7 linked regions of the Homo sapiens genome follow. The protein of the gene in region 1 interacts with the protein of each later gene in a pairwise test. Each region holds a gene or a part of one and is shown in the gene's direction. Other genes may lie near its edges.

Evidence for each region.
Region 2: the proteins of CSNK2A2 (region 1) and ASL interact in a two-hybrid assay, tested with the Homo sapiens proteins (one large-scale study listed by BioGRID and IntAct).
Region 3: the proteins of CSNK2A2 (region 1) and ZNF219 interact in a two-hybrid assay, tested with the Homo sapiens proteins (one large-scale study listed by BioGRID and IntAct).
Region 4: the proteins of CSNK2A2 (region 1) and DCPS interact in a two-hybrid assay, tested with the Homo sapiens proteins (one large-scale study listed by BioGRID and IntAct).
Region 5: the proteins of CSNK2A2 (region 1) and ZNHIT3 interact in a two-hybrid assay, tested with the Homo sapiens proteins (one large-scale study listed by BioGRID and IntAct).
Region 6: the proteins of CSNK2A2 (region 1) and ZNF670 interact in binary tests that used the Homo sapiens proteins (3 or more experiments, as listed by UniProt).
Region 7: the proteins of CSNK2A2 (region 1) and BHLHE23 interact in binary tests that used the Homo sapiens proteins (3 or more experiments, as listed by UniProt).

Annotation. Positions count from the first base shown.
Region 1 is NC_000016.10:58,191,607-58,195,106, reverse strand, and holds part of CSNK2A2 (casein kinase II subunit alpha'), read left to right. Parts: intron 1-3,500.
Region 2 is NC_000007.14:66,085,819-66,089,318, forward strand, and holds part of ASL (argininosuccinate lyase), read left to right. Parts: intron 1-766; coding exon 767-844; intron 845-925; coding exon 926-1,003; intron 1,004-1,515; coding exon 1,516-1,568; intron 1,569-1,910; coding exon 1,911-1,973; intron 1,974-2,988; coding exon 2,989-3,103; intron 3,104-3,272; coding exon 3,273-3,357; intron 3,358-3,457; coding exon 3,458-3,500.
Region 3 is NC_000014.9:21,092,617-21,095,655, reverse strand, and holds part of ZNF219 (zinc finger protein 219), read left to right. Parts: intron 1-1,981; 5' UTR 1,982-2,064; coding exon 2,065-2,070; intron 2,071-2,365; coding exon 2,366-3,039. UniProt on the Homo sapiens protein: Transcriptional regulator. Recognizes and binds 2 copies of the core DNA sequence motif 5'-GGGGG-3'. Binds to the HMGN1 promoter and may repress HMGN1 expression. Regulates SNCA expression in primary cortical neurons.
Region 4 is NC_000011.10:126,345,560-126,349,059, forward strand, and holds part of DCPS (m7GpppX diphosphatase), read left to right. Parts: coding exon 1-54; 3' UTR 55-3,500. UniProt on the Homo sapiens protein: Decapping scavenger enzyme that catalyzes the cleavage of a residual cap structure following the degradation of mRNAs by the 3'->5' exosome-mediated mRNA decay pathway.
Region 5 is NC_000017.11:36,485,202-36,489,480, forward strand, and holds the start of ZNHIT3 (zinc finger HIT domain-containing protein 3), read left to right. Parts: upstream 1-1,479; 5' UTR 1,480-1,498; coding exon 1,499-1,584; intron 1,585-1,733; coding exon 1,734-1,765; intron 1,766-4,279.
Region 6 is NC_000001.11:247,068,812-247,072,311, reverse strand, and holds part of ZNF670 (zinc finger protein 670), read left to right. Parts: intron 1-3,500. UniProt on the Homo sapiens protein: May be involved in transcriptional regulation.
Region 7 is NC_000020.11:63,005,427-63,008,195, reverse strand, and holds BHLHE23 (class E basic helix-loop-helix protein 23), read left to right. Parts: upstream 1-1,231; 5' UTR 1,232-1,421; coding exon 1,422-2,147; 3' UTR 2,148-2,269; downstream 2,270-2,769. UniProt on the Homo sapiens protein: May function as transcriptional repressor. May modulate the expression of genes required for the differentiation and/or maintenance of pancreatic and neuronal cell types. May be important for rod bipolar cell maturation.

The DNA of each region.
Region 1 (3,500 bases):
CTTCAAATCTAAGAAATAAGCAAAACGTAAATTGAAATTAGGAATATCCATATTCCACTGCTGTATATTCAGAAGAATGAATTGCTGACTCTAAAGCAATTCCAGAAAAATGTCTGAACTTTTGTGCTATGGCAGCATTTTTAGAATAAGTGTATGATTTTCTGTGGTGCTTTTTTTTTTTTAAAGGAACAGCATTCAGGTGTGTGTATAAATACCAGCATGTTCATTTAGGAGAGCATCGCATTGCTGCTTCATCATCCAAAGAGCTTTATAGGCTCTAGCTTTCCCCCTACTTTAAAGATTCTTGGCGTATGTTAGGAAACCCAGTATGTAAGCTGCTGCAGGTTATCTTTACAAATGGGAGACCTAGGCACAAAGAAACTTACCTAATGTCATTATGTTGAATGACCATTAGCCAGAACTCCTGTTTCCTATTTCTTCATATCTCTTACTGTTCATTTTAGCACTGGATTGTAGGATCTGAACGTTGAGCACAGAAACAGGTACCAGTGTCCTGGAATCAGACTTGGGAGGCCCCTAGTTAATGAAATGTTTCTTGTTTCTTCTTGATGTTGTTTGTTTTCACAGTGCAGCCTAAACCACTAGTGAAAATTAGACTCACTTCTTTATGTTTTTTAAAGCCCGGTGGCATTTCTATCCAGATTTTGTTCCTGTCTGAAGGATGGGGTAATATATCACTAATGGCATTATTGTGGTTTTGTTGTTTTGTGAATTAAAAGTATTACTTTTTAAAAAGAACAGGGTAACAAGGTCTTTAGCCAAAGTTGTGTTTCTTTATTCAAATAAGTTGAAGTTATGACTAATAGCTACTATTGTGGTGCTTGGTCATAGGAAATTAGGTCCTTAACAGACTACCAGCTCCTCATAACTTGGAAGAATCTAGAACAGCCTTCCTTTTTGTAAAAGCCTGCTGTATTTTAGCTGCAGGATTGTATTATGCACATAGTGACCAAGATAGAGGGTGGCTTTCTTGAGGACAAGTGGTCTTACTTTTGTAGTCAGTAACGTTTCGTATCAGTTCTTTGCAATATATGTGAGAATGGGTGGATGATGAGTGACTACAGAGGAATTTTATATCATTTAATTTGCATTAGTGGATTTCCAGGTATTGATCAAAAATGAGCTGCTAAAAAGTTTTAGGAATTTAGAAACTGGTGAGCAAAATTTTACTGTCTATCCCCAAGTGGTATTCTGTGGCTAAAATCTTAAAACTTTCCAATCAATAGAGAGGTTGTATCTTTTTTTGACAAATTGTTTTGAGGAGAAAAGAGAAAAAGGAGGAGGAAAATGGTAAGCGTTTATATGGCAGGGCAGAAAGCTACATTAGTGCCAAAAGTTTCATCTTTTGATTTTGAAAAATCAGTTCTTCATTTCCTTTGTAGTACCTCTTAGAAAAGTGTACACAGAAGTAAAAGTGGCCACCTTTGACAACTTTTAGCATTTTATGAATACTGCCTGTGTGTGTAGATTTCAGTACTTCTTGGGGTCCTTGGGATCTTTCAAATTAAACTGCTATTTCTTGAATAAAAGTTAAGAGCAACACTATTTTTAAAAAACAGCATTTTGAACCAGTGCAAAATGACTTGGAAATTCCCATATAAGGCTTCCTCTTAGAGGTCTTATTTTATAAACAGATTGACTATCCATTTTCCCCTAGATATTAATTATTTAGCTTTAAACAAAGGGTGGTGGTATTAAAATTTTGCTCTTTAAGCATGTTTAGCATACTTGCAGATATTTTTTAAGTTCTGTGTTGTCAGTAGGTAGTGTTAAAAGGATGGGCATTGGTTATACATCTTTGTTAGTAGCTTCATCGTGAGCTGGTGATCTTTATATTATATCAGAATGGTGCTTTCCTCTTTATTTCCTCTTTATTTCTCCTGTGGTAGGTTTTTTACCCTCCTAAATTTAGGCATGTGTATGAAGACATCTTCCTGAAACAACACATTAGTGGTATTTATCTAAGTTTTTGGTACATTCTGATTTTCACTAATGTCTCATGGTATAAAAGTAGTGCAAACAGTATCACTAAAGTATTGCTAACATTAAAAATAATGTTAAAAATTATATGTGAACTAGGCCGTTTCCAGCATTGTACTGGGGAGTCACAGATTAAGAGTGTAGTTAACCTGTGTCAAACAGAATCGCAGAATGCGGGCACTTAGAAACCTAGAAACCATTAGAACCCAGGCCCTTTTTACAAATCAACCAAGACCCAGAGAAAGGATGTATATGCTCAGCGTCATGTAGTCAGGGGGTGGAAGCACTCGGTGTAGGACCTTGTGTACCTGTCATGAAGTCTTGGTAGATGCGAGGAGCATAATTAGGACATTAGCTGGATGTTTGACTTTGTGATGTCCTGATCTGTACTGGAAGAATTGAGGAACACTCACCAGGAGTCAAATGAAGTTAATTCGTTTCTAATGATTTTTGGAGTTATTTTTCTCAAAGGAAGTGTTTGACTTTGGTAAGTTGCTAGTTGAAGTGTGGAATCCAAGAGTCCTCGAGGGCTATAGGGACCCAGGCAGGCGTTCTCTATGATTAGTATCCACAGCAGCATGTTTAATGCTTCAATGAAATGCTGCTTTATTCTCTTGAAGCCTCAGTAAATAGTGTTTTTATGGTTTTTTTTTTTTTTAACCCATAGAGTTCCTCCAAGTCTCAGCATGATCACTTGGCAGATTTCGGGATTAATAGTTTAATAGTTTTATCCCTTTAATATATGAGTTTATTTGAGAGCAAACCACATGTGAAAAGAATATCTTGATATAGTGTGCCCATTTTCATGTATAAAGCAGGGCTCCAGATAGTTTCTAGAGTTTAATTTCAGGATCTACCATCTCATCATCAGGGTGGTGTAGTGTAGGAAGTGCTGTAAATGAGAGGGCAGAAGGCTTGAGTTCCAGAACTAGTTTCTTCATTGATACCCACTTGACTGTTTTCTCATCTATGAAATAAGCATACATTTCCTGCTTAAGTCACAGGATTGTTAGGAAAGTCAGATAAACTATAGATAGATGGGTAGAGAGATTGATTGTCATGTTTTAGTAATCTACAAAATGCTTTTCTTTCCTGAGAGAGTATGGCCTAGGAAGTGGTCTGCCTGGTTTCAGGTGTTAGCTCCAACTGTAGACGCTCTGTGACGTCAAACAGTTACTTAAGTTCTCTGTGCCTTGGTGTCCTTCCTCAAGTAAAACTGTTAATAGTGCTCATCTAAGACGGTTAAATGTGCTTAAAACAGTGCCTGGCCTGAGAGATCAATAAAGTATAGTAGTAATAACAATATTACATTTGGGTCATGCGAGTGATGTTAGAGGCAGAACCAATAGTAGAAAGGGTTGTAGTGTTCTCCTAATGAGATTCAAAGGGTCTGCTCTATGCCTTGCCTTTAAAAAAAAATTGTGTTAAAATACATGTAACATAGGCTAGGCGCGGTGCCTCACGCCTGTAATCCCAGCCCTTTGGTAGGCCGAGGTGGG
Region 2 (3,500 bases), on another chromosome or scaffold:
AGGATGGTCTCGATCTCCTGACCTTGTGATCTGCCCGCCTCGGCCTCCCAAAGTGCTGGGATTACAGGCGTGAGTTACCGCGCCTGGCCACAAGACCCCATCTTTACAAAAAACTAAAAATTAGCTGGGCATGGTGGCATGTCCCTTTAGTCCCAGCTACTCAGGAGGCTGAGACAGGAGGATCGCTTGAGCCCAGGAGATCGAGGCAGCAGTGAGCTATGATCATGCCACTGCACTCCAGTCTGGGCAACAGAACGAGACCTTGTCTCTAAAAATAAAAACAAAACAAAACAACAAGAAAACAGGACCATCACTCACAGCACCTCTGCCTCTGCCCTGCCTACTTGAATGAGGTGCAGGGCATCTCACCTGCTCAGAGCAGCCCTTGAATGAGCCCCAGCTATTTCTAGGGTCCTCAAACGAAACCTCCCACGGCCAAGTCATACCCAACATGGGCCTCCTCCCCTATTCTGGCCCCTGCTCGGAGATGCTGAGTGACAGAGGCTGGACTTGGGGTGTTTCTGGCAAAGCCTCACTGCAGGAAGCCCCACAGCTCAGGCCCAGTCCTTGGTTCACACGGTCCCACTTCCAGCTTCTTTTGCCCTTAAGACTGATTTGTCCCTGGGAGATCACCAGATCCCTCATTCAGGTGGAGTGCTGCAGCGTGACACTTTTTCCAGGGGTGACCCAGGCCTGCAGGGTTCCAGTGTCACAGGCAGGCCTTGCATGAGCCTCCACCCGAGCTTCTGCTCCTCCTCTCCCACAGGGAACGTGATGTTCTCTTCCCGGGGTACACCCATTTGCAGAGGGCCCAGCCCATCCGCTGGAGCCACTGGATTCTGAGGTGAGCCAGGTGAGGTGCAGGGGCTGTGCTAGAGGGGAGGACCCCGGCTGCCCTGACCCTCCTGCCCCTGGCTTCCCACAGCCACGCCGTGGCACTGACCCGAGACTCTGAGCGGCTGCTGGAGGTGCGGAAGCGGATCAATGTCCTGCCCCTGGGGAGGTGGGTGAGGCTCCAGTGCCCCGAGGGCCTGGTGGGGGTGGCTGCTGCATAGCCTTAGGGATTGACAGAGCTGGGAAGTGCAGAGTGGGACAGAAAACCGCCTTATCTGCTCAGCGGGGGACTCTGCATGGAGCCCCAGCTCTCGCTAAGGTGACGACCAAGCCATTGAATGTGTCTGAGCAGGGCCAGAGCCCTCCAGCAAGGCTCCTGGCAAGCCCAGCCTGCTGCCCTCAGCCTGACATGTGGGAACATGTGTCAGGAGACAAGTGTCCTGCACCCAGGGTGACTTAGTGCTTGGGGACAAGTGTTTTGTGGACACTTGGGGACAAGTATTCTGTACCCAAGGAGACTGGGCCAGGGAAGAGGCTAAGCGCCAGGTGGTTGCCCTGGCAACCAGGACTTGGTTCTCTGTGTGTGCGTTCGTGTGTGTGTGTGTGTGTGTGTGTGTGTGTGTGTGTGTGTCAGGGCTGCCTGCCAGGAGCCCTGGTCACCATGAATCCCTGTCCCTGCAGTGGGGCCATTGCAGGCAATCCCCTGGGTGTGGACCGAGAGCTGCTCCGAGCAGGTGAGACGTCCTGCCCCTCCTCCCCAGGGAGAATCACCCTCAGCACCCGCCAAGACCTGCAGACACACCTGAAACCAGAGGGCAGGGGCCTGTGGCTCCTGGTGAAACCTTCATTCATTGCCTATGGGCACTGAGGTCATCAAGTTCAGGGGTCACTCATGGCAGGGATGCCTGGTACTGAGAGACTCAGGGCTCCTGCCTCCCTCCTGGGACTGTGCAAAAGATCCCTCCCCCCAGCTGTTGCCCCACCCTGATCAGGGGAGGGGGCTGGGCAACCTAGTTGGGGGAGAGGGGGCCACTCCCTGTCCTCCAGCTTAGCCCTGCTTCCTCCCACCCCCCCAGAACTCAACTTTGGGGCCATCACTCTCAACAGCATGGATGCCACTAGTGAGCGGGACTTTGTGGGTGAGTCCTGGGGAGCCAGTCCCCTGCCCTGTGCCTCACTTTAGTCCTTCAGCCCAGCTTCTCTCCAGTTTCCTCCCACACCTCCACGGACAGGCTGGTTGTGGTGATATTGTACACTGAAGTATAAACCTTAAATGGGTAAAGTGGGTGGGGCATGGTGGTTCACCATGCCCAGCACTGGCCAACATGGTGAAACCCCATCTCTACTAAGAATACAAAATTTAGCTGGGTGTGTGGTGGCAGGTGCCTGTAATCCCAGCTACTCAGGAGTTCTGAGGCCAGAGAATCACTTGAACCCAGGAGGCGGAGGCTGCAGTGAGCCAAGATCACGCCAGTGCACTCCAGCCTGGGCAACAAGAGCGAAACTCCATCTCAAAAAATAAAATAAAATAAAATAAAAATAAATAGGCCAGGCATGGTGGCTCACGCCCGTAATCCTAGCACTTTGGGAGTCCGAGGCAGGTGGATCACATGAGGTCAGGAGTTTAAGACCAGCCTGGCCAACATGGTGAAACCCCATCTCTACTAAAAGCACAAAAATTAGCTGGGCATGGTGGTGCATGCCTGTAATCCCAGCTACTCGGGAGGCTAAGGAAGGAGATTCGCTGGAACCTGGGAGGTAGAGGTTGCAGTGAGCCAAGATTGTGCCACTGTACTCCAGCCTGTGCATTGGGAGCGAGACTCCATCTCAATAAATAAATAAATAAATAAATGGATAAATTGTATGTGAGTGATAACTCAGTAAAGCTGGTTTATTTAAAACAACAACAATAACAAAAAACACGCTAGGTGCAATGGCTTACGTTTGTAATCCTAGCACTTTGGGAGGCCAAAGCAGAAGGATTGCTTGAGCCCACAAGTTTCAGAACAGCTTGGGCGACATAGCACGACCCCATCTTTGCGAAAAATGAAAATTTAGCCGGGTCCCCCCACCGCCTAACCTCCTCCTGCCCCCTGTATGGTCAGGCTGGGTGGGGATGGGAGAGGCCTGGTGACTGGGAACCTTTTCTCCCAGCCGAGTTCCTGTTCTGGGCTTCGCTGTGCATGACCCATCTCAGCAGGATGGCCGAGGACCTCATCCTCTACTGCACCAAGGAATTCAGCTTCGTGCAGCTCTCAGATGCCTACAGGTAAGCCCTGAACTGCCACCTCCATCTGCCGCTGCCGGCCTCTGTATCCCCCGCCGCCCGCGGACGTGGCTGCCTTCCTCCCCGTCCCACCCCTCCGCCAGACCTGGCCATTGCGGCGCTGGACCAGCCAAGGGTCCAGCCCCTTCAGCGCCAGCACCTCTGTCCCCAGCACGGGAAGCAGCCTGATGCCCCAGAAGAAAAACCCCGACAGTTTGGAGCTGATCCGGAGCAAGGCTGGGCGTGTGTTTGGGCGGGTGAGCAAGGCAGGGGGAGGGGCGGGGCCTCTGGGCTGATGGTGGGTGGCCAGGGGGGCAGGATCCCGGGTCCAGCCCCTGTGCCTCCCTCTTCCCGCAGTGTGCCGGGCTCCTGATGACCCTCAAGGGACTTCCCAGCACCT
Region 3 (3,039 bases), on another chromosome or scaffold:
AGGTGGCCCAAGTGGCTTCTGTGGTAGCCCACTGCACTCTCCATGGTACTGAAGGGATGACCATTTGTTTTAACATCTCTCTGGGGTCCAAAAGAGTCCTGTGACTTAGAATCACAAACTTTTTTCGAGCAGGAAGGGACTAACACTATAAATTAGTCCAATCCCCTTATTTTACTGATGAGTAAACTGGGAGGTTAAGTGATTTAGTAAAGGTTGTAGGGTTATCAATGTTCAGACTAGGCCTACAATAGCCTTGTACCCTTCAGTCCTATTCTAATTCACCTTTTGTGACACTATTCAGTAAGCCTGGCTAGGCTCTTAGTCCCAGGAAAGGATCCAGAGGATGAGAGTGGGTGCCCTAATTTGAAGCTACAGAAATACACATATTAAGTGGTAGTGGAGGTCGTCTAGTGACCCTTGGACAAGGACACTTTGTTAATTAATCATCTGCTAATAATAATCCTATAGCCCAGATTCCACATGTAACAGGTACCTGCCCCTTCATGGAGTTTTACCACATCCACTAAATGTCAAAAATTAAAGAAGCCTTGGACCTCCAGAGCCTTTTCTCTCTGCTGACAGGCAGGTTGACTCCTGGCACAGTTCTTTTCTATTAAAGATCCTTAGGCAAAGTAATGCTTGCATCTTTTTCTTTCTCAGTAACCCATTTCAGTTTTGTGATGCCTATTGTAAGGAAGTTCTTTATATCTCAAATATCCTTTCTTAGACAAAAAAAAAAAAAAAAAAAGGTTAGACCCACATTCATTTAGCCTTGACCAGATACTATTCTATATGAGGCAGAAAGGTAGACTAGATGACTTCTGGTCATCCTCCCAGGTCTGTTTCCATGAATCTTGATTCTGGGGTTTCTTCTAAGTCCTCATGCTAAACTCCTCTGCAGCTTAGGATCAGCACCCGCCCCCCCCCCCAACCCCTATCCTCTTCCTCTCAATGATCTTCTCCTTCCCCAGCACTGGAGCTCTGCAAGTCCCAGGCCTAGGGAATTTTAGCCTGGAGAATTTTAACCCTTTCCTGCTCAGAGCATGTGCTGAGTCCCTATCTGTGCAGATGGCCCAGCCCCGCCCCCCGTCCCTCACTCCAGCCTCTTGAGCTCAGAGCCAGTGTAATCCTCCTCTTGTGTGAGGGAGCCTCTCCCCTGCAGAGAGGAGGAAAGCCTGCCTCGGAACAGCCCTGGACAAAGGGGCTCAGATGCCCCATCATACTGCAGGCTCCAAGGTTTGAAACAAGGGGATGAATCCTATACGGTATTTGCAGTTTTTAGCCCCTTCCCCAGGCTAGCTGTGCCCCTTAACTTCCACTCCTCCCCCAACTCTCTCTTCATTCCCTCTCCCTCTGGCTCCCTCCCCCTTCATGCCCCTCCCCCTCTGTCTGTCTTCAGACTCTGCTGCTGGGAGGTGTTTCTCTCCCATGCATGAATGAGTCTCTGTAATGAATGGAAATGAATGGATCAGGAATCCAGGCGGAGGGAGGGAGAATGAGGGGGGAAAGACAGAAAGACAGGGTAAGGGCAGAAGGAAGCACTGTGGAACCTGGAAGGATGTTTGGCTGGCTGCTCAGTTAGGGATCTCAGAGCAACTGGTCCCACTTGGATAAATGGGGAGCATGGCAAGCCCACCTCATTTGCTCACCACACTGCATAGCCCAACCTACATGGGAGAGGGGCATATTGTGATGGTCTTCCCCACCGCCAGGGGGTGGGGTGGTAGCTGTGGTTGTTCTGGACCATGCATTTAAAATATAGAATTTGGGGAAGAAATCTGGATTATCTGGGAGGCTTGTAGGCTTGGCAAGTCAAGAGGTACAGTTTTTGAGTATAGCAGCCCCTTCGTGCCTCAAGAAGCAAGTAGGGAGAATGGATTGGTTTTGGGAATACAGAATGCTGAGAGTCTGGGGGTAGGGAGTGACTTTACTGCTGAAAACTAGGGCTCATCTTTTCCTCCAAATCTGTCTCTTGCTTTAGCTCCACAGCACCTGTTGCCTTCATTAGCAGCTTTTCCTCCTCTTCCCTGCACTTCCCAGAACCAAAGAATGTGAAGGGGGTCCATGGAGGTGAGTGAAGCTCTGGCTTCAACCTACAAGTACCTACAACTGTATACTCCCTCTCCTGCCTACCTCTCTCTCTCTTTGACCTCCCATTATTAGAAGTTAACTCCTTGGCCCTGACATCTCGATTCCCATACACCTCCCCCCACCCCATCTTCCCGAGGTGAGTAGCACCCTGTGTTCCTAGTTCAGGCCCCAGCCCACCTTCCCTCGTGTTGTCCTTCTGGCCCTCGAGGCGACGCCCTTGCTTCCTTTACAGCTCTACCTTCACCCTTTGCTCTACGCAGATCTTTCTCCACAGGGCTCACGTCCCCGCGCCCCGAGCGGCCACTTAGCGCCGTCGCCGCCGGCTTTCGACGGCGAGCTGGATCTGCAGCGATACTCCAACGGGCCAGCCGTGAGCGCAGGGTCGCTCGGGATGGGAGCGGTGAGCTGGTCTGAGAGTCGTGCAGGCGAACGGCGCTTCCCCTGCCCTGTATGCGGGAAGCGCTTCCGCTTCAACTCTATCCTTGCTTTGCACCTGCGGGCGCACCCAGGAGCCCAGGCCTTCCAGTGCCCTCACTGCGGCCACCGCGCGGCGCAGCGGGCTCTGCTGCGCTCGCACCTGCGCACACACCAGCCCGAGCGCCCACGTAGTCCTGCTGCACGCCTGTTGCTGGAGTTGGAAGAGCGCGCGCTACTACGCGAGGCCCGACTGGGGAGAGCCCGAAGCTCAGGGGGCATGCAGGCCACCCCTGCCACTGAGGGTCTGGCGCGGCCCCAGGCTCCTTCATCGTCCGCCTTCCGTTGCCCCTACTGCAAAGGCAAGTTTCGCACCTCGGCGGAGCGCGAACGCCACCTGCACATCCTGCATAGGCCCTGGAAGTGCGGCCTGTGCAGTTTCGGCTCCAGCCAGGAGGAGGAGCTGCTGCACCACAGCCTGACGGCCCACGGGGCTCCCGAGCGTCCCCTGGCGGCCACCTCCGCTGCGCCTCC
Region 4 (3,500 bases), on another chromosome or scaffold:
CTCAGGGCTGACGACCCCCTGCTCAAGCTCTTGCAGGAGGCTCAGCAAAGCTGAATTAACTCAGGCAGAAGAGCACAGATGTGTGGGATTGGGGGAGGAGTGGGGACAAGATTTTTTATCTCCAAGTGAATTTTCTAAAAATGTATTTTATACCGGCTTATTCCTAGTATTGAATAAACTAGCGGGCTCACTCAGTGTGGACAGCGTGGCCTGGGAGGCAGACAGATGGTGGGGGACAGTGGGTGGGTAGAACCTGTGGGAAGGCCTTGAGAATGGTGGAAAGTCTCCAGGTGGTGGTTTCAACTGACAGGTGGGAGCTGCCCTGGAAGGGTGCCGAGGGCCTTCTCCAAGCCCCAGGGCTCACCGTCCGTGGTGGCTTCCTTCTCCCCACTCTGTGCCTCTCCTGTTTGTACAACTTCTTATTCTGCTCCTCCCCATCACCCCTCCTCCTTCCCCTGCCATCCACCTCTCCTTTGAGGAGTTCCCCAAAAAACCAAACTTGGAAGCTTTCAGGAAATTATCTATACAGGTTTCTGATGGCACTTCCTCCTTCCAGCAGTGAGGTCACACCTCCCTGTGAGTCAGTCAACCCTGCTGATAAACTTCTTGTTGACGAGGATAGGGGCTTGGTGCCTGGAAATCGGCGGGTTTTAATAAGAATCAGATTATGCAAGGCCGAAAAGCCTGCCTTGCTCTGTTATTTGGTCAGCGAGTCCCCAGCCTTGAGTTTTTATCTCGGCAGGAAGACAAAACAGACTCACATGAAGCAGCCAGAAGATCAAGTGCAAAACAGTGAATCAGCAAGGGCAAATGATATGGTTGCAGTTGAATACAAAAGCCCGGAGGCGGCTCGGGTTCAAGGCCTATCAGAGGCAGATGTTCAGAGGATCTTGAGACCAGGAAGGGACCTCAAAGCGTCAGAGGCTGATGAGCAGTTAGGCAGCCAACAGGGCTCAAGCGGCGCAGGGACATGGCTTGTATGGGCGGGCACACAAGTAAACACACAGGCTCTCTCCAGCACACAGGACCAAGGCATCATGCTGCCAGAGGGGCTGGTGTTTGCCACTTTGTCAGAGTAGGGCTGTGGATTTTGTGCCTTGCTTGGGAAGCTCTCAGGGATGGCAGGATGGCAGGCTCCTAAGTGACAGCAGGGGGGAAGCTTGAGGCACAGTGGGTGGTCCTTACTCTCCATCCCCTGCCTGAGAACCAGGAAGCCTCATTCAGAGATTAGCCCCTTTACTGCAGGTGGTAGCCCAGGTGCAGCCAACCTGCTTCAGGGTCTCAGGGCCTGCTGTGGACCCCCATGGTCCTGGGAGAGACTCCTTAGAAACAGCAGAATCACGAACATGGTGAAACCCATCTCTACTAAAAAACAGAAAAATTAGCCAGGTGTGGTGGTGGGCTCCTATAATCCCACCTACTTGGGAGGCTGAAGCAGGAGAATCCCTTGAACCCGGGAGGCGGAGGTTGCCGTGAGCCACCGCACTTTGGCCTGGGTGACAGAGCAAGACTCCCTCTCAGAAAAAAAAATTAAAAAAATAGAAACAGCCGGGGAGTGGAGGGTGTGGTCAGAAAGCCTCAGGGACCTGCTTCAGCCTTCAGGGAGTTCAGATGAGGCACAATGAAGCCACTGGCCTCCACTCAGCCATTCTTCCCTGCAGCTCTTTTTTTTTTTTTTTTTTTTGAGACAATCTCGCTCCATCACCCAGGCTGGAGTGCAGTGGCACAATCTCGACTCACTGCAACCTCTGCCTCCTGGGTTCAAGTGATTCTCCTGCCTCAGCCTCCTGAGTAGCTGGGACTACAGGGGTGCGCCCCCATGCCCAGCTAATTTTTGTATTTTTAGTAGAGACGGGGTTTCACCATGTTGGCCAGGCTGGTCTCCAACTCCTGGCCTCAGGTGATCCACCCATCTCGGCCTCCCAAAGTGCTGGGATTCCAGGCGTGAGCCACCGCGCCCAGCCCCTGCAATACGTCAACAGTCCCTAGATTCAGGCAACATGGAGTTGCAGCCAAGGAACTTTGAGGTAGTGACCAATGCAGGGAGGTCTGACAGAGAATCAGCAGGATCCATTTCATGGCCACCACACATCTGACTGACTCCTTCTTGGGCTAAGCAAATACTTTTGTGGGCAGTGACACTGGCAGCTGCTGGGGTCTTGGCAGGAGGTTGGATGGAGGTCTTCTCCCAGAGCAGTGTCCAGCTTGCAGGAATGCTCCCTGCGTCTCAGTTGTGCCCATTCCAGGTCCAGGGGAAAGAAGTGACCCGCTTCCCCTCTGAAAGCAGATGTGGTCCCAACAAGCAAACACGGTCTCCATCTCCAGCACCACAACTGCCACGGAGCAGAGGGAGGCCTCCCTGTGGAGCAGCCCTTCCCTGTGGCCTCAGCCCATGCCCTCCTGCCCAGCCCCCAGTGGTGCTGCTGGAGGGTCTGACTCCACGGGCTCCCGCTGACCTTGCCGTTCCTTCCCCTCATCTCGTAGCGCCTGGCCCCTGGAGGAAGGTGGGTAGGAATTTGACACCGGATAAATAAATGTTTGAGGGGCAAGAGAGATGGGACAGAGTTCACCCAACAGGACAGACGAGGCTGGCAGTCACAGCAGAGGGCAGGCACTCAGGTCTGGAGAGGCAGGGCATGGAGACAGGGACCCACACTCTGGAAGGTTTCTCGACTCCCCCGAGGGGCTGGCCAGTTCTGTCTTCCTTCTGCCCACTCTGTGGGGAGGAGCCTCTCTGGGATAGCGTCCCCTCACTCCTCTCCCAGCCTCGTTTATCTTCACCACAGTACAGAAGGGGGCCCCTCTCCAGGCCTCACCACTTAACTTTTCTTGTACATGGAAAGACAAGCCTCTGCTAGAGGCCTGGCAAGGGTTCCCCTTCAGAGCCAGCCAGTGCTCTGCTGCTGTAATCTCCAGGGACCCTGCCGGCCACGGCCCCCATGCAGCTCCCTCCCTCAATCCAACCCTCTTTGGGCTTATCACCCTCAAGGTCTAGAGTGCACCAGGGTTGGCTGCTCTGCCAAGTCCTGTTGAGACTCCAAAAGCATAGTCTGTCTTTATTAGGGTGACCTTCATATCAGACTCCCAGGTAACTCAAGATGATAGCTTTGCAATATAGTGCCTCCTTTTATTCCTATTTGTGAGTTTCTCCGCTTTCCTCACTAGACTGAGAGGGTCTTGAGGGTAGGAGCTTTGTTTTAGTTATCTCTCTATCCCTGGCCCCTAAGACACTACCTGGCTCAGCAAACCAACCTTTGAGACAAAGCAACATTATAACACTACATTCATATAGCAGATCATTTCATGACCCACATTCTCCTTCCTTTTTACGAAGAAATGGGCTCAGGATGTCTTGTCCAGCATTATGGAGTGAACGTCAGCTCCAGGAAGCAGAGACTTCTGGCCCTTTGTTCACCATTTCCCCAGAACCTAGGGTGGTGACTCACCTATAAGTGCTCAAAAAACATGTGGCGAATGGAGGACCAGAGCTAGGCTCTGAA
Region 5 (4,279 bases), on another chromosome or scaffold:
CCCAGCAGCTTCAGCACTGAGGACTGGACTGGGTCGCCACGCCCAAAGGAAGGATAATTACTCACCTCCCACTCAAGAAGCAGGCGGCAGAACTGTTTTGGAGAGCATGGCTTGGGGCCTGGGACCTATGTTCATGCGGTCCAGACGGAGATCCATGAGAGTTAAGACTCTTTCTAGATATCAGGTAGCACTTCTGATTACAAAACTTTTGCACATGGTCTCCTCTCTGCTTTACAACAGCTCAGGAAAGTAGGCCCAAACATCCACTTTAATAGATGAGGGAGCTCAGAGGGGGTAACCAACCCCTCCAGGTCACACAGCCAGGGAGGGGGTTGAGCCAAGGTTCAAACCACTGCCTCGGTTGTTGCAGATACATCCCTGCAGACACCTTTATTGAAGAGGGACCCTGAAGGCTGAACGGCCAACACAGAAGAGGAGGCACTTGGGAGTAAGGGTGATTTATGGCCCTGGGAGGGCCCAGTGCAGGTAGGATGGGAGCTAAGGTAAGGCTGGGCCATGCCTAGCTGCAAGCAAATTTCCTTAAAAAACAAACAACAAAAAACATTACTTTTTCTAAACCTAAAGTTTGTGGTGGCATTCAAGTCCCATCATAGCCCATCTATCCAGACTCATCTGCCTGGGATCCCCGTCTTGGGACTAGTGGTCACTGGCCTGCTTCCTGGTCAATTAGCTTCCGGGACTAGGGGGAGGTGTGAGGAGCCTAGAGTGCAAAATTTAAGAAGCACTCAGTCTCAGGGGCGTGCAGGTGCAGGGTAGCGACGGCAGGACTCTAAGAGTGAGTCTCTTTCCTCCCCGTTTCCCCGTCCTACTTTCACTCTAAGCATTTAGTTCCCAGGGGACAGAGACGACTTCTTCATTAGAAGACCCCGGGGGGTCCCCAGCCCGGAAGGGCTCACAGTTGGAGCTCAAACATTTGCCACTGTTCAGGCTCATCTTTCTTTCCCCAGTGAAAAATGGTCTAGGTTGGGAAGGGCAGGTTCCTGTCTACTGCGTGATCCAACCGATTCTGGTTCGCCCAATGTCTGGACTTGTCCTTTGCCAAGAATAAGCAGATGAGATGGGCGGATGAACCCCAATGTCCCTGCAAGATTCAGGAAGTCCCAGCCAGAAAGTAAAGGACGTTTAGTTCCATGTATTGTTTTCTTTTTTACATGCGGGGCAACACACCTGGACAGTGTCGATGGCTTGCTCCAAGCCACACGGCCGCATAGGGACAGGGACTGGGCTACATAACAAGTTCTTCGACGCTGTGATCTAATCAAGGAAAACCTGGGACGCAGCTAATAGATGCGCATCGAGTGTATCGACGCTCTAAGTACGAGGGCTGGAACAGTGAGCAGGATCAGTCCATTGCTTTTGCCTACCTGCTGAGCGCTGATTGGTCCCCGTTTAGGAAACGGAAAAAGGGGCGTGCACGCGGGCGCGGCTGCGTGAGAGGCGCGCGGCGGCGCAGTGAACAGTCTCCTTCCACAAAACCATGGCGTCGCTCAAATGTAGCACCGTCGTCTGCGTGATCTGCTTGGAGAAGCCCAAATACCGCTGTCCAGCCTGCCGCGTGCCCTAGTGAGCGGGGAGGTCGCGGGGTCCAGGGGCGCGGGTGTCCGGCCATGGCGGGAGGGCGGGAGGCCGGGAGGCCGGGCGGGAGCGGGCGGGCTGCTGGAGGGGCCGGGGACCCTCGGGGCTGACGCGGCCTGTGGCCTCTGTTGTTACAGCTGCTCGGTAGTCTGCTTCCGGAAGCACAAAGGTGAGCCCCGTCCCCGCCAGCCCTCGTACCACTGCGCACGGGGCAGCCCCCACGTCCAGCCTCCGTCTTGGGGGCGTGGACCCTTGGGCTGCGCTTCCTTTCCCGCCTCGGGTCTCCGCGGGTTCTGCAGGAACCTTGCTTCCTCTGACTTGGTCCCTGGTGTCTCTGTGTGTCGGACAGTTCCCTCTGTTGTCCCTGCCTGTAATCGCTCTCAGGGTTTTGGTCAGTAGCCTTTCTTCTACCCCGCTTCTCCTTCTGCGTGTTACTCTTTTTTGCTTAGAAATAGTTTCCGATTGCTTTTCCCACCGAGGTCTACCCTAGCAGTTTCTTCCTCAGTATTCTGATGTAGCCCCTCACCATTTGGCTGAAACTGCGCTAACTTTAACAGTATTTTCACTCGTGTAAATAATGTCTTGTTAGAAACAAAGAGGTAAGTCCATGTACAATACAAGGAGACGTCCTTGATTTGTTAAGAGAAAAAAAGAACCAAGTAAGTTCTGTGTATGATGTGAACACACTTTTGTACAGTTAAAAAGAAGTGACCTGGCCGGGCGCGGTGGCTCACGCCTGTGGTCCCGGCACTTTGAGAGGCCAAGGCGGGTGGATCACCTGAGCCCAGGAGTTCGAGACCAGCCTGGCCAACATGGTGAAACTCCGTCTCTACTAAAAATACAAAAATTAGGCGGGCGAGGTGCGCGCCTGTAATCCCAGCTACTCAGGAGGCTGAGGCAGGAGAATCGCTTGAACCCGGGAGGCGGAGGTTGTAGTGAGCCGAAATCGCACCACTGCACTCCAGCCTGGGCTACAGAGCCAGACTCAGTCTGGAAAAAAAAAGAAAAAAAAAAGTTTGATGTAGGTGGGGCGCGGTGGGTCACGCCTGTAATCCCAGCACTTTGGGAGGCCGAGGCGGGCGGATCATTTGAGCTCAGGAGTTTGAGACCAGCCTGGGCAACATAGCGAAACCCCGTCTCTATAAACAAACAAAGCCAGGCGTGGTGGCCTGTGCCAGTGGTCCCAGCTACTCAGGAAGCAGAGGTGGGAAGATCGCTTGAGCCTGGGAGGAGGAGGTTGCAGTGAGCCAGGATCGTACCACTGCACTCCAGCCTGGGAGACAGCAAGACTGTCTCAAAAAAAAAAAAAAAAAAAGCTTGATGTAGATTCTTTCAGCTTATTTCCACTCTTGTACCAATATATAGAACTTTTTTTTTTAGCTTTTAGAATCTCAGCAATGAGACTGTACCCAACATCCTCATTTGAGTTTATATATTGGGCACTTTTTAAAACCTAGTGCATACAGGCTGGGCGCAGTGGCTCATGCCTGTAATCCCAGCACTTTGGGATGCCAAGGTGGGTGGATCACCTGAGGTCAGGAGTTCGAGACCAGCCTGGCCAACATTATGAAACCACATCTCTACTAAAAATACAAAAATAAGCTGGGTGTGGAGGTGCGCGCCTGTAATCCCAGCTACTTAGGAGGCTGAGGCAGGATAATTGCTTGAACCATGGAGACGCAGGTTGCAGTGAGCCAAGACTGCACCACTGCACTCCAGCCTGGGCAACAGAGTGAGACTCCATCTAAAAAAAAATTAAAAAAATTAAAAATAAAGACTAGTGCATACAAGTTCTAGCTCACTGACTTAAAGGACTGTATGTTATTTCATTATATAGTTGGTACGACCATTATTTATATAAAGCCTCCTATTGGTTGATTTTTCTTTTTAATATTTGTTTTTAATTGACACATAATTGCATACAATTTGAGTTACAGTGTGATACTTCGATACCTGTATACAATGTTTAAGGATCAAATTAGGGTAATTAGCATATTCGCCCCAAATAATCATTTCTTCATGTTGGGAACACTCGCAATCCTCTCTTGTAGCTATTTGAAAGTATAAATTGCTGCCAACATGGTCACACTAAGGTACTGTGTAACACTAGAACTTATTCCTCCCATCTAGCTGTAATTTTGTATCCATTAAGCAACTTCTCCCTAGCCCCCTACACTCTACTCTTCCTAGCCTCCAGTTACCACTATTCTGCTCTCTACTTCTGTGAAATCAACTTGCTTAGCATCCACATGTTAACAAGAACATCTTATGGTGCCTGGCTTGTTTCACTTAACATTATGTTCTTTGGGCTCATCCATGTTCCTGCAAGTGACAGGATTTCATGGTTTTTTATGGCTAATATCCAGTGTATATATGTACCGCATTTCTTTATCCATCTGTTGGTGGATCCTTAGGTTCATTCCTTATCTTGGCTGTTGTGACTAGCAGTAAACGCAGGAGTGCAGGTATCTCTTCGGCAGACTGATTTCATTTCCTTTGGATATATATACAGTAGTGGGATTGCTGGATCATATGGTAGTTCTATTCGTAGTTTTTTTTTAGGAACCTCTATGCTGTTTTCCATAATGACTATACTAATTTACATTCCCAATAACAGTGCAGTGTATAAGAGTTCCCTTTTCTCCACATCCTTGCCAACATGTTTTTTTCTTTTTGATAATAG
Region 6 (3,500 bases), on another chromosome or scaffold:
AGGCATGGCAGTGCGGAGCTGTGGTCTCGGCTGCTTGGGAGGCTCAGGTGGGAGGATCACTTGAGCCTCAGAGTTCCAGGCTGCAGTGAGCTGTAATTGCACCATTGCACTTTAGCCTGGGCAACATAGTGAGACGCTGTTTAAAAAAAAAAAGTGGCTGGGCGCAGTGGCTGACACCTGTAATCCCAGCACTTTGGGAAGCCAAGGCGGGCAGATCACGAGGTCAGGAGATCAAGATCATCCTGGCTAACACGGTGAAACCCCGTCTCTACTAAAAATACAAAAAATTAGCCAGGCGTGGTGGCGGGCACCTGTAGTCCCAGCTACTTGGGAGGCTGAGGCAGGAGAATGGCATGAACCTGGGAGGCGGAGCTTGCAGTGAGCCGAGATTGCACCACTGCACTCCAGCCTGGGCAACAGAGTGAGACTCCATCTAAAAAAAAAAAAAAAGAAAGAAAGAATAAAACTGTGAAAGGAAATACAAATATTTAGCAATAGGTATTTTACCCAATTTATAAATGAGTTCTTACGTTTTAATGAAAATTCAAAATAGATAACTCAAATTTAAAAAATAACAGTATAAATAATGTACGGTATAAAAGGTTTCATATTACTTTAAGGCATGTAATTTATTACCTTCATATTCAGACCTTCATCATTCACCAGTTTCTTTTTTTCTTATTCAACTTTTATTTTAGGTTTAGAGGCTGCATGTGCAGGATTGTTACATGGGTCAAATATCACTGGTGGGACTGGGTGTGCAAATGATTTTATCACCCAGGTGGTGAACATAGTAACCAATAGGTAGTTTTTAGACCCTCACCCTATTTTCACCATTCATCTTCAAGTATGACCAGTGTTTATTTAACTCTTTGTGTCTGTGTGTACTCATCGTTTAGCTCCCACTTATAAGTGAGAACATGCAGTATTTGGTTTTCTGCCACTGTGTTAATTTGATTAGGATAATGGCCTCCAACTACATCCATGTTGCTGCAAAGGGCGTGATTTTGCTTTTTTCTATGGCTGTGTAATTGTCCCTGGATGTATGTGTACCACATATTCTTTATCCATTTTACTGTTGCTGGGCATATAGGTTAATTCTATGACTTTGCTATTGTGAATAGTGCTGCAGTGAATATACACATGCATGTGTCTTTTTGGTAGAATGATTCAGATTCCCTTGGATATATATACCCAGTAATAGGATTGCTGGGTTGAATGGTAGTTCTGTTTTAAGGTCTTTGAGAAATCTCCAAAATGCTTTCCACAGTGGCTGAACTAATTTACATCCCCTCCAGCAGCGTGTAAGCATTCCCTTTTCTCTGCAACCTCGCAAACATCTGTTATTTTCTGACTTTTTTGTAATAGTTATTCTGACTGGATGGTTTTGATTTGCATTTCTCTAATGATTAGAGATGTTGAGCATAATTTTTCACACACTTCTTGACCATGTGTATGTCTTCTTTGGAGAAGTGTCTGTTCATATTCTTGCCCATTTTTTTATGGAGTTGTTTGCCATTTTTCCTTGTTGATTAGTTCAAGTTTCTTATAGATCCTGGATATTAAACCGTTGTCAGATACACAGATAGCAAATATTTTCTTGTATTCTGTAGGTTGTCTGTTTACTCTGTTGACAGTTTATCTTGTTGTGTAGAGGCTCTTTAGTTTGATTAGGTCCCACTTATTTATTTTTGTTTTTGTTGCGATTGCTTTTGGAGACTTTGTCATGAAATATTTACCAAGGATTATGTCCATAATGGTATGTCCTAGGTTTTCCTCTAGGGTTTTTATACTTACAGGTTTTACATTTAAGTCTTTTTGTTTGTTTGTTTGTTTGTTTTGAGACGGAGTCTCACTCTGTCGCCCAGGCTGGAGTGCAGTGGCGTGATCTCGGCTCACTGCGAGCTCTGCCTCCCGGGTTCATGCCATTCTCCTGCCTCAGCCTCCCAAGTAGCTGGGACTACAGGCGCCTGCCACCACGCCTGGCTAGTTTTTTGTATTTTTAGTAGAGACGGGGTTTCACCATGTTAGCCAGGATGGTCTTGATCTCCTGACCTCGTGATCTGCCCACCTCGGCCTCCCAAAGTGCTGGGATTACAGGTGTGAGCTACCATGCCTGGCCACATTTAAGTCTTTAATCGATGTTTTTTTTCTTAATTTTTTTATTTTTAATTTTTGTGGGTACATACTAAGTATGTATATTTATGGGGTACAGGAGATATTTTGATACAGGGATGCAATTTGTAATAATTACATCATGGAGAATGGGGTGTCCATCCCCTCAAGCATTTACCCTTTGTATTACAAATAATCCAATTATACTTAGTTGCTTTAAAGTGTACAATTAAATTATTGCTGACTATAATCATCCTGTTGTGCTGTCACATGCTAGGTCTTACTTATTCTTTCTGTTTTTTAAATACGCATTAACCATCCCCACCTCTTCCCTAGTCCCCCTGACTACACTTCCCAACCTCTGGTAACCATCCTTTGACTCATGTCCATGAGTTCAGTTGTTTTGATTTTTAGATCCCACAAATAAGTAAGAACTTGTGCTGTTTGTCTTTCTGTGCCTGGCTTATTTCACTTAGCTTAATGACTTCTAGTTCCACCCATGTTATTGCAGATGACAGGCTCTCATGCTTTCTTATGGCTGAATAGTTCTCCACTGTGTGTATGTACATTTTCTTTATGCATTCATCTGTTGATGGACACTTAGGTTGTTTCCAAATTTTGGCTATCGTAAACAGTGCTACAACAAACGAGAGTGTGGATATCTCTTTGACATACTGGTTTCCTTTCTTTTGGCTATATACCTAGCAGGAGGATTGCTGGATCATATGGCAGGTTTCTTTTTAGTTTTTTTTTGAAAGACCTTCAAACTGTTCTCCATAGTAGTTGTACTAGTTGACATTCCCACCAGCTGTGTACAAGGATTCTCTTTTTTTCCATATCCTTGCCAGCATTTGTTACCTTTTTTTGTCTTCTTTAACTTTCTTGGGGACATACAAGGTGTATATATCTATGGATTACATGAGATGTTTTGATACAGGTATGCAATGTGAAATAAGCACCTCATGGAGAATGGGGTATCAGGCATTTATCCTTTGAGTTACAATCAAATTACACTCTTTAAGTTACGTTAAAATGTACAATTAAGTTATCATTGACTGTAGACACCTTGTGCTATCAAATAGTATGTCTTTTTTATTCTTTCTAAGTATTTTTTTTTTGTCAGCCATTAACTGTCTCCACCTCTCCTCCAGCTCGCCACTACTTTTCCCCACCTCTGGTAACCATCCTTCGACTCTCTATGCCCATGAGTTCAGTTGTTTTGATTTTTATATCCCACAGATAAGTGAGAACATGCGATATTTGTTTTTCTGTGCCTGGCTTATTTTGCTTAACATCATGATCTCCAGTTCCATCCGTGTTGTTGCTGCAAACGACTGGATCTCATTCTTTTTTTTTTTTTTTTTTTTGGCAAAATAGTACCCCAG
Region 7 (2,769 bases), on another chromosome or scaffold:
GCCTGAGTTTCCCACGGAGACTTATCCATGCATCTGTCTCCTCACACCCCGCACCTGGCAGGGAACCACCGGACAGGCCGGTCACTGCTGCGTTCCCAGAACCTTCCAGACAGCACATCCGCCCCACACACGTGCAGCTCCCACTCCCCTCCCGGGGCTGCGCACACTGCCCCATCGCTGTGGCTCCTCCTGGGGCGGAGCCTGGAGAACAGGGAGGGTATGCGGCCCTTCCCAGGTCACACAGAAGGGCCCGACGGGCCGCTCCACCTCGTGCCATAGGCCAGGGTGGCCCAGTCTCCCACCCAAGCCAGGACCGGAGAAGCCACTATCCCTCAGCACACTCTAGCCTCAGCACTCGGCCGGGCCTCCAGGCAGGTTCCCACCTGGGAGAAGGGCTGGGGTTCTGGCCTTCATGCGGGGTTGGAAGAGGACTGAAAAGGCGAGTCCGAGGCTGGCCACATTCCCATCCAGTGTGGCTGGACCCCAGGGGTTCGGAGGCTCCGGGAAAGCCCACCAAGCCTCACGCGTTTCGCTGATAGATGCCCAGGAAGCGGCTGGCAGGGAAGAGGCGGTCCTGCAGCTCACAGAGCTCCCCTCCCACCCCCGGGGAGCCCCAGGCCGCGCTGCCCTCCACCTTCCCGCCCTCCCCGGCCTGCAACGCTCGTGGCGTTTTTCAACAGGTTCTAGAAACTCCCTCTCACTCTGCCCCTCAAGCCTGGCCACAGGGCGCCCCGAGCAGGGAGTGTGCGGGCTCCGGGTACACGCTGCGCCGCGGCTGCACCAGAGCGCCCACGACCCTGACCCCGACCCGAAGCGGCCCCTCAGCGGGACAGGGTGTTGGCGCTGGCGCTGCTGCTATTGCGGCGCGCCCCCCCGCTCTGGCCCCTGCGTGTCGCCAGGGACTCTTGCGCTAGGGTCAGACTCAAAGACGGACCGAGGCGGGTGCCCACCTGGGACGCGTGCGTTTGGTGGCGGAATCCCCGGGGCGGCCGGAGGCGGCGGCCGGGGAGTCGAGAAGCAAGTACTAGCGCTCCAGGACCGCGCGCGCCGCCCCGCGCCGCCCCGCGCCGCCCCTCGGTCCAGAGCCCCCACCCCCGGCCTGTGAGCCTGCGGCGCTGGTGGAGCCCGGCTCCAGGAAGAGGAGCTCACCCGGTCCCCCCTGATTGGACAGCAGCGAGGTCCCACCGGGCGCCTCCGCGGCTTAAAACCGAAGCGGGGGCGAGGGGGAGGTAGAGCCCGCCCCCTGCGCGTCGCGGCTGGGAGGGAGAGGAGGTGGGAGAGAAGGAAGAGGCGGAGGAGGCAGCGGGCGCCGAGGCTCTGGGACCCGCAGGCAAGCCAGACCGACGCGCAGAGCCGGGAGCCTCATCGCAGCGGCAGCGGCAGCGGCGGGCTCGGGCCGGCCTCGGGGGCTGCTCACCCACATGAGCATCCGCCCACCCGGCGAGCCCCCGAGCCCAGGCGGCGCGGCCATGGCCGAGCTCAAGTCGCTGTCGGGGGACGCGTACCTGGCACTAAGCCACGGCTACGCGGCGGCGGCTGCGGGTCTCGCCTACGGGGCGGCGCGAGAACCCGAAGCGGCCCGCGGCTACGGCACTCCGGGCCCGGGCGGCGACCTCCCCGCGGCGCCTGCACCTCGCGCCCCAGCTCAGGCGGCGGAGAGCAGCGGCGAACAGAGCGGGGACGAGGACGACGCCTTCGAGCAGCGGCGGCGGCGGCGCGGGCCAGGGAGCGCGGCGGACGGGCGGCGGCGGCCGCGAGAGCAGCGGTCTCTGCGGCTCAGCATCAACGCGCGCGAGCGGCGGCGCATGCACGACCTAAACGACGCGCTGGACGGGCTGCGAGCCGTCATCCCCTACGCGCACAGCCCGTCGGTGCGCAAGCTCTCCAAGATCGCCACGCTGCTGCTCGCCAAGAACTATATCCTCATGCAGGCGCAGGCCCTGGACGAGATGCGGCGCCTGGTGGCCTTCCTCAACCAGGGCCAGGGCCTGGCCGCGCCCGTAAACGCCGCGCCCTTGACGCCCTTCGGCCAGGCCACTGTGTGCCCCTTCTCCGCAGGCGCCGCCCTGGGGCCCTGCCCTGACAAGTGCGCCGCCTTCTCCGGGACGCCCTCCGCGCTTTGCAAACACTGTCACGAGAAGCCGTGACCGCGCGGGCCCCCGGCCCTCCCGCACGCGTCCTCCGATCGCCCCTGTGACTGTCTCTCTGCCCGGACAGGAAAGGCCTGGAGGGACCCTGCAGACCAGGAGGAGGGGGCCCGACTTCGCTTCCAGCCTGTGCGCGGTGGACAGTTTAGCGCAGCGGGAAGCGCCAAGGCCGTCGGGGCGCGGGATTGAGCTCGAGAGCCGGACGCTGGACTCTGCGCCCGGGAACTCGCGGCACCCACTGGGTATTGTCGGGACCCAGCAAGTCTAGGAACGGGGGTGGGTAGAGCATCCTTCGGGCACTGCCGTTCGTCCCCAAAAGAAGACCACCGCGGGGTCCCAGGGCCACGGCGAGGACGGGCACTGGTCAGATTCCGGACAGGCGGTCCTGGCCCCGGGCGCACGAAAGGTGGAGACGAAGAAAAGCCGGACTTACTGGCTCCTGATCCTCTTGCAGTGGGCCTCGCGCTCCCGCTCCAGCCGGCCCTTCGTGCTAAACTGCAGGGCAGTGCTCTGTTCCTGAGGACGCGCGTGGCCGGCACCTCCCACCTCGGTGACTCCGAGACTCCGCAGCCCTGCGGAGAGCCCACGATGGCCGTCTGCAGAGGAGCTGGACCGCGGGCGC